Linked DNA regions of Homo sapiens: region 1 is reported to be linked to region 2. The links are microRNA targets in miRTarBase. Many come from high-throughput screens and were not tested one by one. Region 2 holds a microRNA gene; the other region holds the end of a gene's coding sequence.

Region 1 (4,395 bases), not on the chromosome of region 2:
CCCAAACTGCTGGGATTACAGGCGTGAGCCACCGCGTCCAGCACCTTCTAAAATTTTACTTCTTGCTGGGGCCTTCAGCGATTTTATCATAAAATCACCCAATTATGCTGACATGCTGTCACATGTCACAATCTATGTCTTATAAGCACATGGAAGGGCTTCTCAAGCAAAGTTATGTGTTTCATGAAAAAGGACAGATTGGTTGCTGCCACAAAAAGAGTTTCTCTAAATTTTTGCTTCCCTCAGATGCATGGTGTGACAAATGTAGCCTTTTTTTTTTTTAAGACAGAGTCTCGCTCTGTCGCCCAGGCTGGAGTGCAGTGGCGAGATCTCGGCTCACTCCAACCTCCACTTCCCTGGTTCAAGCAATTTCCCTCTCTCAGCCTCCTGAGTAGCTGGGATTACAGGTGCATGCCACCACGCCCAGCTAATTTTTTTGTATTATTAGTAGAGACGGTTGGCCAGACTGGTCTCAAACCAGGTTTCACCTGGTTGGCCAGACTGGTCTCAAACTCCTGACCTCAGGCAATCCACCCACCTTGGCCTCCCAAAGTGCTGGGATTACAGATGTGAGCCACAGCGCCTGGCCGCCTTTTTTACTTGCTTTTATAAACACCATTAATTTAAAGGCCAGTAACTTATTTCAGCTGCCCTACAGGCAATGAATATCCTTACTTGGACTACTGTAGACTTGGCTTCTTATAAAAACAATAATCTTTTTGGACAGAAGAAAACAAAGTATTTGGCTAATTAATTAATTAATTTGGCATTCTCAAACCTAGAGGCCATTACATTAAGAACTAGTTTGTAGTTGTTACATTTCTTTGTTTTGTCTCAGTGGATCCAGGGCTGGAATCGCCCCCATAGTGGCAGCAGGGGAGACCCCATCAGGGAGTGATCCAAACTATCTCGAGATAGGGCCGGCTGGGATTTCAAAGAAAGAAGCTCTAAGCGCCAGGGTGATCAATCCAAAGCATTTATTAGAGGAACTTCCTTACAGAGTGCTGCAGCAATGGTTGAGAGAGAAAAGGGGTGTTCTGCCCAGGTATATCAGCAGTGAGGGAGTTTCTATGACAGTTAAAGGAATTTGGCTCAGGGCCAGAGCCAGTTTCTTTTTTCTTTTTCTTTTTTTTTTTTTTTTTTTTTGAGACAGAGTCTTGCTGTCACCCAGGCTGGAGTGCAATGAGAGTCTTGCTGTGACCCAGGCTGGAGTGCAATGGCATGATTTTGGCTCACTGCAACCTCCGCCTCCTGGGCTTAAGCAATTCTCCTGCTTCAGCTTCCCGACTAACTGAGATTACAGGCACCCGCCACCATGCCCAGCTAATTTTTTTGTATTTTTTTTTTTTTTTTTAGTTGAGACGGGGTTTCACCATGTTGGCCAGGCTGGTCTTGAATGCCTGATCTCAGGTGATCCACCCGCCTCGGCCTCCCAAAGTGTTGGGATTACAGGCGTGAGCCACTGCGCCCGGCCCAGTGCCAGTTTCTTTTAGTGTTTTAGGGAACAACCTAGACAGATTTATCAGTGCCTGGGAATGTTCAAGGCCCGGTTTGGGTTCAAGCCTGCTAGGAAAAATCTGCAGCTGGCTAGGTGACAAAGGTCAAGGCACTCTGTGACTTTTGGTCAGGATACAGAAAGCAGGGGCAACTGGCAACTCTACACTTGTGAATAAGAAAATGTTCATTCTCTTCTTCTCTGGGATTTCCTAAATGATTGCTGGCACCTAGAGTATGAGAACCCTGCGTCGAACAATTTAATAATCAAATTGGTAGCTAGGTTGCAGTCAGCTTAATAGTTCACCTCTGAGGCCTCTTGGCTAATGTATATATTGGTAACTTTAATAAGAGTGGAGAGATCTGCAGGCAGCATCTTGCTCAAGTCACCAAAGTTAACCTCACCAGTGAGAAGACAACTGAGCATGTACCTCACCTGACTGGCTGCTGTGGGCAGCATCACACCTGACCTGAATCCCTTCACAGACCCAGCAGAGGGCTGTGTACAGAGCAGGTGCTCAGAAAAATCCATGCTGAAGTGAATTAAAAAATAAACAAGATCTTTGGTTTATTATCGGTTACAAAGAAAGAGGAGGTGTGGAAAGCTACTTCCACTGAGATAGCTTTCCTAACTGTTAGGTAGGAAAATGCCAGGGCTCCCACTGGAGGGCAAAGTAGAATCCAGAACACACCCATATTCTTGGTCCATTTCCCAAAGGTCCACGCCTGAGAGATTTCAAGCTGAGTAAAGGAACAAGTCTTCTGAAGATGCAGATTTTGGTTTTATTTCAATTCAGTACAGCATACACTAGTATAACATACTTTTTTTTTTTTTTTTCAAAATCACCAACCAAAACCCATCACTGATACTTTGATTGTCTAGGAAAGAAGGAGCCCCAGCCTTGTCACATACAATCTCTGTCCCTGGTGCAATGTCATCCTCACTGTGCTGTGAAAGGCAAGGCTCTCTCCTCACCCTAATAGCTCCTGTTTCCAGTGCTTGCCTGTCTTTCTTCCCAAGCGTTGGCCGGGCTGTGCTTTCTCAGTTAACCCAAAGGCTCTTGCAGGCCTTTTCCTCTCGGAAGTCCCCTCCCTCTCCCGAGAGAGAGAGCTGCTTTTTTTTCCTTTTTTTTTTTTTTTTTTTTGAGATCGAGTTTTGCTCTGTTGCCCAGTGCAGTGGCATGATCTCGGCTCACTGCAACCTCCACCTCCCAGGTTCAAGCGATTCTCCTGCTTCAGCCTCCCAAGTAGCTGGGACTACAGGTGCGTGCTACCACACCCAGCTAATTTTTTATGTAGAGACGGGGTTTCACCGTGTTAGCCAGGATGGTCTCGATCTCCTGACCTCGTGATCCGCCTGCCTCGGCCTTCCAAAGTGCTGGGATTACAGGCGTGAGCCACCGTGCCCGGCCTCAACTTTTTATTTATTAGCTTGTTGGTCTTCAACCTCTGTAAGCCTCAGTTTCCTCACTTATCAATCATCTACTGCTGTATAGAGACAGGTCCATCTCCTAGCATGCAGGGTGAGGCTAATGTGACATTTGAAAACTCCAGAGTGCTGCTGACAGTGGTTGGAGGTGAAGGAGGAGGAAATAAAAGCAATGTGAGAATAGCTTTAAAGAAAGGAAGGGCAAAAAGTTGAAAAGAAAGAGGCAGTGTGGAGAGATGGAGCCAACAGCAGCATGGGAGTCCCTGGCTAGGGTCAGGGCTTAGATGACGACATTGTTGGTTGGGTTCACTTGCCCTCTGAACTGCACAGGGAATCGAGCTGGTCATTAGACATGGCCTGGAGCCAGTCACTGGAAAAGGAAATCAATACCCAGACTGATTCTCAGAACAGCCACCATTTGTATGATTTTAATCCATAGAATCATTCTGAAAGCTTCTTAATCTTCACCTTTTTTCTGGACAGGAGACAGGTGGCTGAGCCTAGCCCTGGACTGGATCATATCTTCACACTTCCTTAAGCCACAGAAAACTTGAACCAGGTGGTGTGGTCATACTCCTCACCAGGCCTCAGCAGCACAGGAGGGAAGCGGGGCTGTGAAGGGGAAACAACACAGGTGATGCTTGACACCGCAGGCTGCAACATTAACCATTTGGGTGTGCTTCTGGACGGGCTTCTAGACCAGTGCTCTGTGGATGGCTGCCAGTGCGGGAACTGTTTATGATTGGTTCATAGTGAGATAAAGAACTTTAATCAGAGTGAAAAAAGCACACTTTGTTAAAGGAAGGCTTTCCTGATGAAGGGAAGCAGTGTGTTGATCTATAATCTGGTGTAAGGTGTAGGCTTTTTTTTTTTTTTTTTGAGATGGAGTCTTGCTCTGTTGCCCAGGCTGGAGTGCAGTGGGGCGATCTCAGCTCACTGCAAACCCCGCTTCCTGGGTTCAAGCGATTCTCCTGCCTCAGCCTCCAGAGTAGCTGGGATCACAGGCACCTGCCACCATGCCCAGATAATTTTTTTATTTTTACTAGAGACAGGGTTTTGTCATGTTGACCGGGCTGGTCTCGAACTCCTGACCTCAAGTGATACACCTGCCTCAGACTCTCAAAGTGCTGGGATTACAGGTGTGAGCCACCGCACCTGGCCCTTTTTTTTTTTTTTTTTTAAAGACAGGGTCTCATTCTGTTGCACAGGCTGGAGTGCAGTGGTGTGATCATGGCTCACTGCAGCCTTGACCTCCCAGGCTCAGGGATCCTCCCACCTCAGCCTCCCAAGTAGCTGGGGCCACAGGTGTGCACTACCACACCTGGCTAATTTTTCTAATAATCTGTAAAGATGGGGTCTCCCTGTGTTGCCCAGGTTAGCCTCAATCTCAGGCTCAAGCAATCCTCCCGCCTCAGCCTCCCAAAGTGCTGGGATTACAGGCATGAGCCACCTTGCCCAGCCCAAGGTGCAAG
Region 2 (4,395 bases):
TCATCAGGTTTTACTGTCAACTACAAACCTTACCCAGCCAAAAACCTTCGTATTTTAGATGGTAGGAAAGACATTCCTCATTTAGGCAAGTAGGGTTCTCATTCAACCCTTTTCTGCTGTTTTTAGAACCTTCTGCTACCATATCCACCACTTCCACCACCAGATCCATAACCACCACCATAGGGACCGCCCGAGCTTCTTCCACCAAAACTGCCCCCTTTCATGGGTCCATAATTTGATTGCTGTTGTCCACTATAATTTCCAAAATCATTATAGTTCCCACCACCACCATAGTTACCACCGCCAAAATTTCCTCCTTCATTGTAACCATCATATCCTCCACCTCCACCATATCCACCACCTTGGTTTCCATATCCTGGTCCACCATCACCATAGCCCCCTCTACTACTATAACCAGGACCACCGCCATAGTTGCCACCATCACCTCCAAATCCATTATATCCACCATCACCTCCTCCATAACTACCTCTGCTGCCACCACCTCCACCACCTCCAAAGTTCCCTCCGCGACCCATAAAATTGCCAGATCCACCTCCACGACCTCTCCGTGATCCAGCAGACTGCATCTCTTGTTTAGAAAGGGTCTTTTTCACTTCACAATTATGCCCATTAATAGTGTGGTATTTCTGAACAACAATTTTATCAACTGTATCATGATCATCAAAAGTTACAAAAGCAAATCCTCTCTTTTTTCCACTCTGCCTGTCTTCCATAACTTCTATGGTTTCAATCTTGCCATACTTTTCAAAGTAGTCTCTCAAATTATATTCTTCTGTATCTTCTTTAATACCACCAACAAAAATTTTCTTCACTGTTAGATGGGCACCAGGCTTTACAGAATCCTCTCTAGAAACAGCTCTCTTTGGTTCCACTACACGCCCATCAACCTTGTGTGGTCGAGCACACATTGCTGCATCCACCTCTTCAACACAAGAATAAGTCACAAAACCAAAGCCCCTGGAACGTTTTGTTTGGGGGTCTCTCATTACCACACAATCTGTGAGTGTGCCCCATTTCTCAAAATGTTCTCGTAAACTATCATCTGTAGTTTCAAAGCTCAGACCACCAATAAACAGTTTTCTCAACTGCTCTGGTTCCTTTGGATCATGGCCCTCCTCCCCCCGGCGGCGACGGCGACGGCCGGAGTCGGGCTGGGGGCGACTGGGCGGCGGTTTTACCTCCATTTTGAGACCGGACTCGCCTCTTCCAACTCGAGTTCAATATGGGACCGAGAGGAAGAGGCGGGGCCAGTCGTCACGTGACGCGTTTTCCCCGATTTGTTTCTTATATCAGTCTAAAGTAGATAAGAGGGGTAATGATTTTCATTTTAGAACCAAGGCCCTAAGAAAATAAATGACTTGGCAAGGTTGTACACATTAAATGCTGCATCAAGGGCTTAAACACAGGCCTTTTATACTAGAAGTGTAAGATATCATCCAAAATATCTGAGGAGTCTTGTCAAAATATGTAACCAGTCACTTCCCTGATATTTTGAGTCAGATTCTTCCCTTGATTCCCAAATGTTCCTGACGTGCTTTTCAACAGCCTTATCACAGCCCTCTCAAGTTTAACAATCTTTATTTCAATAGAATGAGGAAGTCTCTTCTTCATGACACTTTTGATGCAAGACACTTAAAACCCACCTCAAATTGGCTTCAGTAGAAATGAGAAGGGGGCAGGGATCTATTTTCTCACATAAATGAAAACTCTAGGAATAGAAAATCTTCAGGGATAGCTGGATCTAGGATATTTAATGATGTCCTCAAGACCAGGTCCCTCCCCACAGTGTATGACTCAGTTCTTCTCTACAGTAGGACTAGGATCTCTTTTCCTGGCAGCCTCCAGGTGCTCCAGGCTTCATCAAATCTTCATGTCAAGGAGAGACATCTCCTTCCTCAACAGTGTTCCAGTAAAGGTTCTGGGTTTGCCTTGGATTAACTCTGAGTTAGTGGCCTTGGGAGAGGTTGCAGTGCTCTGTCAGCTGAGGCTTTCTTCCTAAGCTTGCCATCAGCTAGAAGCTCCAGCCCACAACACACATCAGGATAAAGTAAAGGCTGACTACTGCAGAGGAAAATTCATCTAATGTTGACTACATTAAGAGCTGCAAAGGACATTTAGCTCAATTTTCTTTTAACTCAGTATCCCCTGAGAGCTAAATAATCTTAGCTTGTTTTATCAGTAAGAGAAGACTTTAGGAGTTTTATGATGTGGCAGTGTCAGCGGGCTTTTGACTGCCAGTGGTCCATGTGGAAGTGGGCAAACGGAACATTTATACATTAACTGACTTTTCAATTCATTTATCTCCATTTAAACAGGTGCAGGTGACGGAAGAGCTGGAACTTGGAAAGTGTGGAACATTCCAAAAGCTCTAATGCTTTGAACTTAGACTATGAGGGGCTATTAAAGTCAGTCATTGTAATAAATTTATTATATTGTGGTACTTGTATCTGTCCAATGCCAGACAGAGTTCAGATTTATGGCCAATCATACATTATGTATCAGCTATAAAAATAGTTTTATGCTATTGCACTAAATTTCAAGAAAATAAAAATTCTGACAAAGAGGATACTACACTAAAAAAATCTCCAGCTTATGATCAACACCTTGGAGTTGCTTCAGCAATCAACTATGTATTTATGTTTAGTGTCTCTCAAAAGCACATTGAGACATTAATAGTAGTTTTCAGAAGCAAAAGTGGTGTCTAGAAGGAAGAAAGCTTTTAGCTGAGAAGAAATTGAATCAATTTTTCATTTTAAAGTCATAAAGGTTTTAGTGTTATTAAGCCCTAGAACCACCCTAACAAAAGAACATTAGTCCTAAGTAAATCGTGTCTTGTTTTGGATGGTACAAAGAAGTGCAAGAGTCAGAAATATATTTTTAAAAGTTAACAAAATCTGTTAAATAATAATGACTTCAGTTTTGAAATATTAGAAATTTCCTCCATCCACAAAAAGACATAAAAACTGAGAACAAAATGAAATTAAAATAGTGCTTGTCACCTCAAATTCATTGCTGAGGGAGTCATCACATTGAAAAGTAAAAATCAGGATTTAGCATTCAGCTAAAATGCTTATTCAGTTTTCTATAATCTGTAATAGTTTATTGAGCTTTCTTTATATTTCATTACCTTGATATTTTTGAATAGTGTAAGACATTCTTTTGGTAGACTGTCCCTCAATTTGGGTTTTTCAGACATTCTTTATGATTTGATTTACATTTTTGGTAGCAATACCTCTATATTAGTTCATTCTCATGCAGCTATGAAGAAATACCAGAGACTGGGTAATTTATTTTTTAAAAAGGAGGTTTAATTGAATCACAGTTTTGCATGGCAGAGGAGGCCTCAGCAAATTTACAATCATGGTGGAAGGCACCTCTTCACAGAGTGGCAGGAGAGAGAAAGAGTGCCAGCAGGAGAAATGCCAGATGCTTACAAAACCATCAGATCTCATGAGAACTCACTCATTATCATGAGAATAGCATGGGGAAAACTGCCCCCGTGACTGAATTACATACACCTGGTCTCACTCTTGACACATGGGCATTATTACAATTCCACGTGAGATTTTTGTGGGAACACGGAGCCAAACTGTATCAACCTCAGAGGTGCTGTTGCCTTCTCAGTACATCATATCAGGAGACACAGCATCATTAATGGTGATTTTGACTTTGATCACTCAAGTAAGATGGTATCTGCCAAGTTTCTGCACTAGAAATCTACTTTTTTTCCATTTTGAGTTTAATATGCATCTTTTGGGGAAATGCTCTGTTTATTTTCAAATTTTTACTCATTATTTTTAATGATAGTTCATGCTTCTGCCTAAAATAATTATTGCTCTGGTGATATTCTAATTCCATTATTACTTCTATCTCATTTGTTTACACTCTACAGTAAGGAAGAATTCTATCTCATTCATCCATCATTTATATCATTATGAACTTATGAATACTTGTTATATTTCATTCTATATTTTGTATATTTCACTACTTTCACTATTTATTTTAATGTTCACATTTTTCCAGATTTTAACCATTTGTATTGCAAATAAATAACATAACCACACTTAAAGGGGTGAGGGAGGGAGCTAACTTGAGTAAATTTTGAGCACAGTGCTTTGATTATATATGCTTATATTAAAGACTAAAAAAATTAAGAATGTATTGAACTCTAATTTGTAGCTGTTTTCTCACTCTAACATGAATTAACAATTATGAAGCTACTTTATGTGATTCTAGTTAAATAAAATGAATTGTTGATAGTGAAAAGTTGGTGTTTTACTGTTGGAGATGGGAGTGACATACATGGAAAGGTTAGAAAAAAAACATTATGTTGAATTGTAATGAAAAGTATCAATATAAACTTAAGGTTTTAAA

Evidence for each region. Region 2 holds the annotated microRNA hsa-miR-4444 (CUCGAGUUGGAAGAGGCG, at 1,220-1,237, opposite strand). A microRNA usually pairs through its seed, bases 2 to 8, with sites in the 3' UTR of a target mRNA and lowers its output. Matches are read on the target gene's strand: a 7mer-m8 pairs with bases 2 to 8, a 7mer-A1 pairs with bases 2 to 7 and ends in A, and an 8mer does both.
Region 1: the mRNA of GALM is a reported target of hsa-miR-4444. Seed matches in the 3' UTR shown: 7mer-m8 at 2,644-2,650.

Annotation. Positions count from the first base shown.
Region 1 is chr2:38,732,628-38,737,022 of GRCh38, reverse strand. It overlaps GALM (galactose mutarotase), which reads right to left. Exons shown (of 7, transcript NM_138801.3): 7 at 2,258-3,535. The coding sequence ends at 3,458. LOC124905993 (a long non-coding RNA gene) reads left to right here and starts at 3,473. Exons shown (of 3, transcript XR_007086292.1): 1 at 3,473-3,557.
Region 2 is chr3:75,211,360-75,215,754 of GRCh38, reverse strand. MIR4444-2 (microRNA 4444-2) reads right to left here and starts at 1,279; the gene lies at 1,206-1,279. It also overlaps the pseudogene HNRNPA3P6.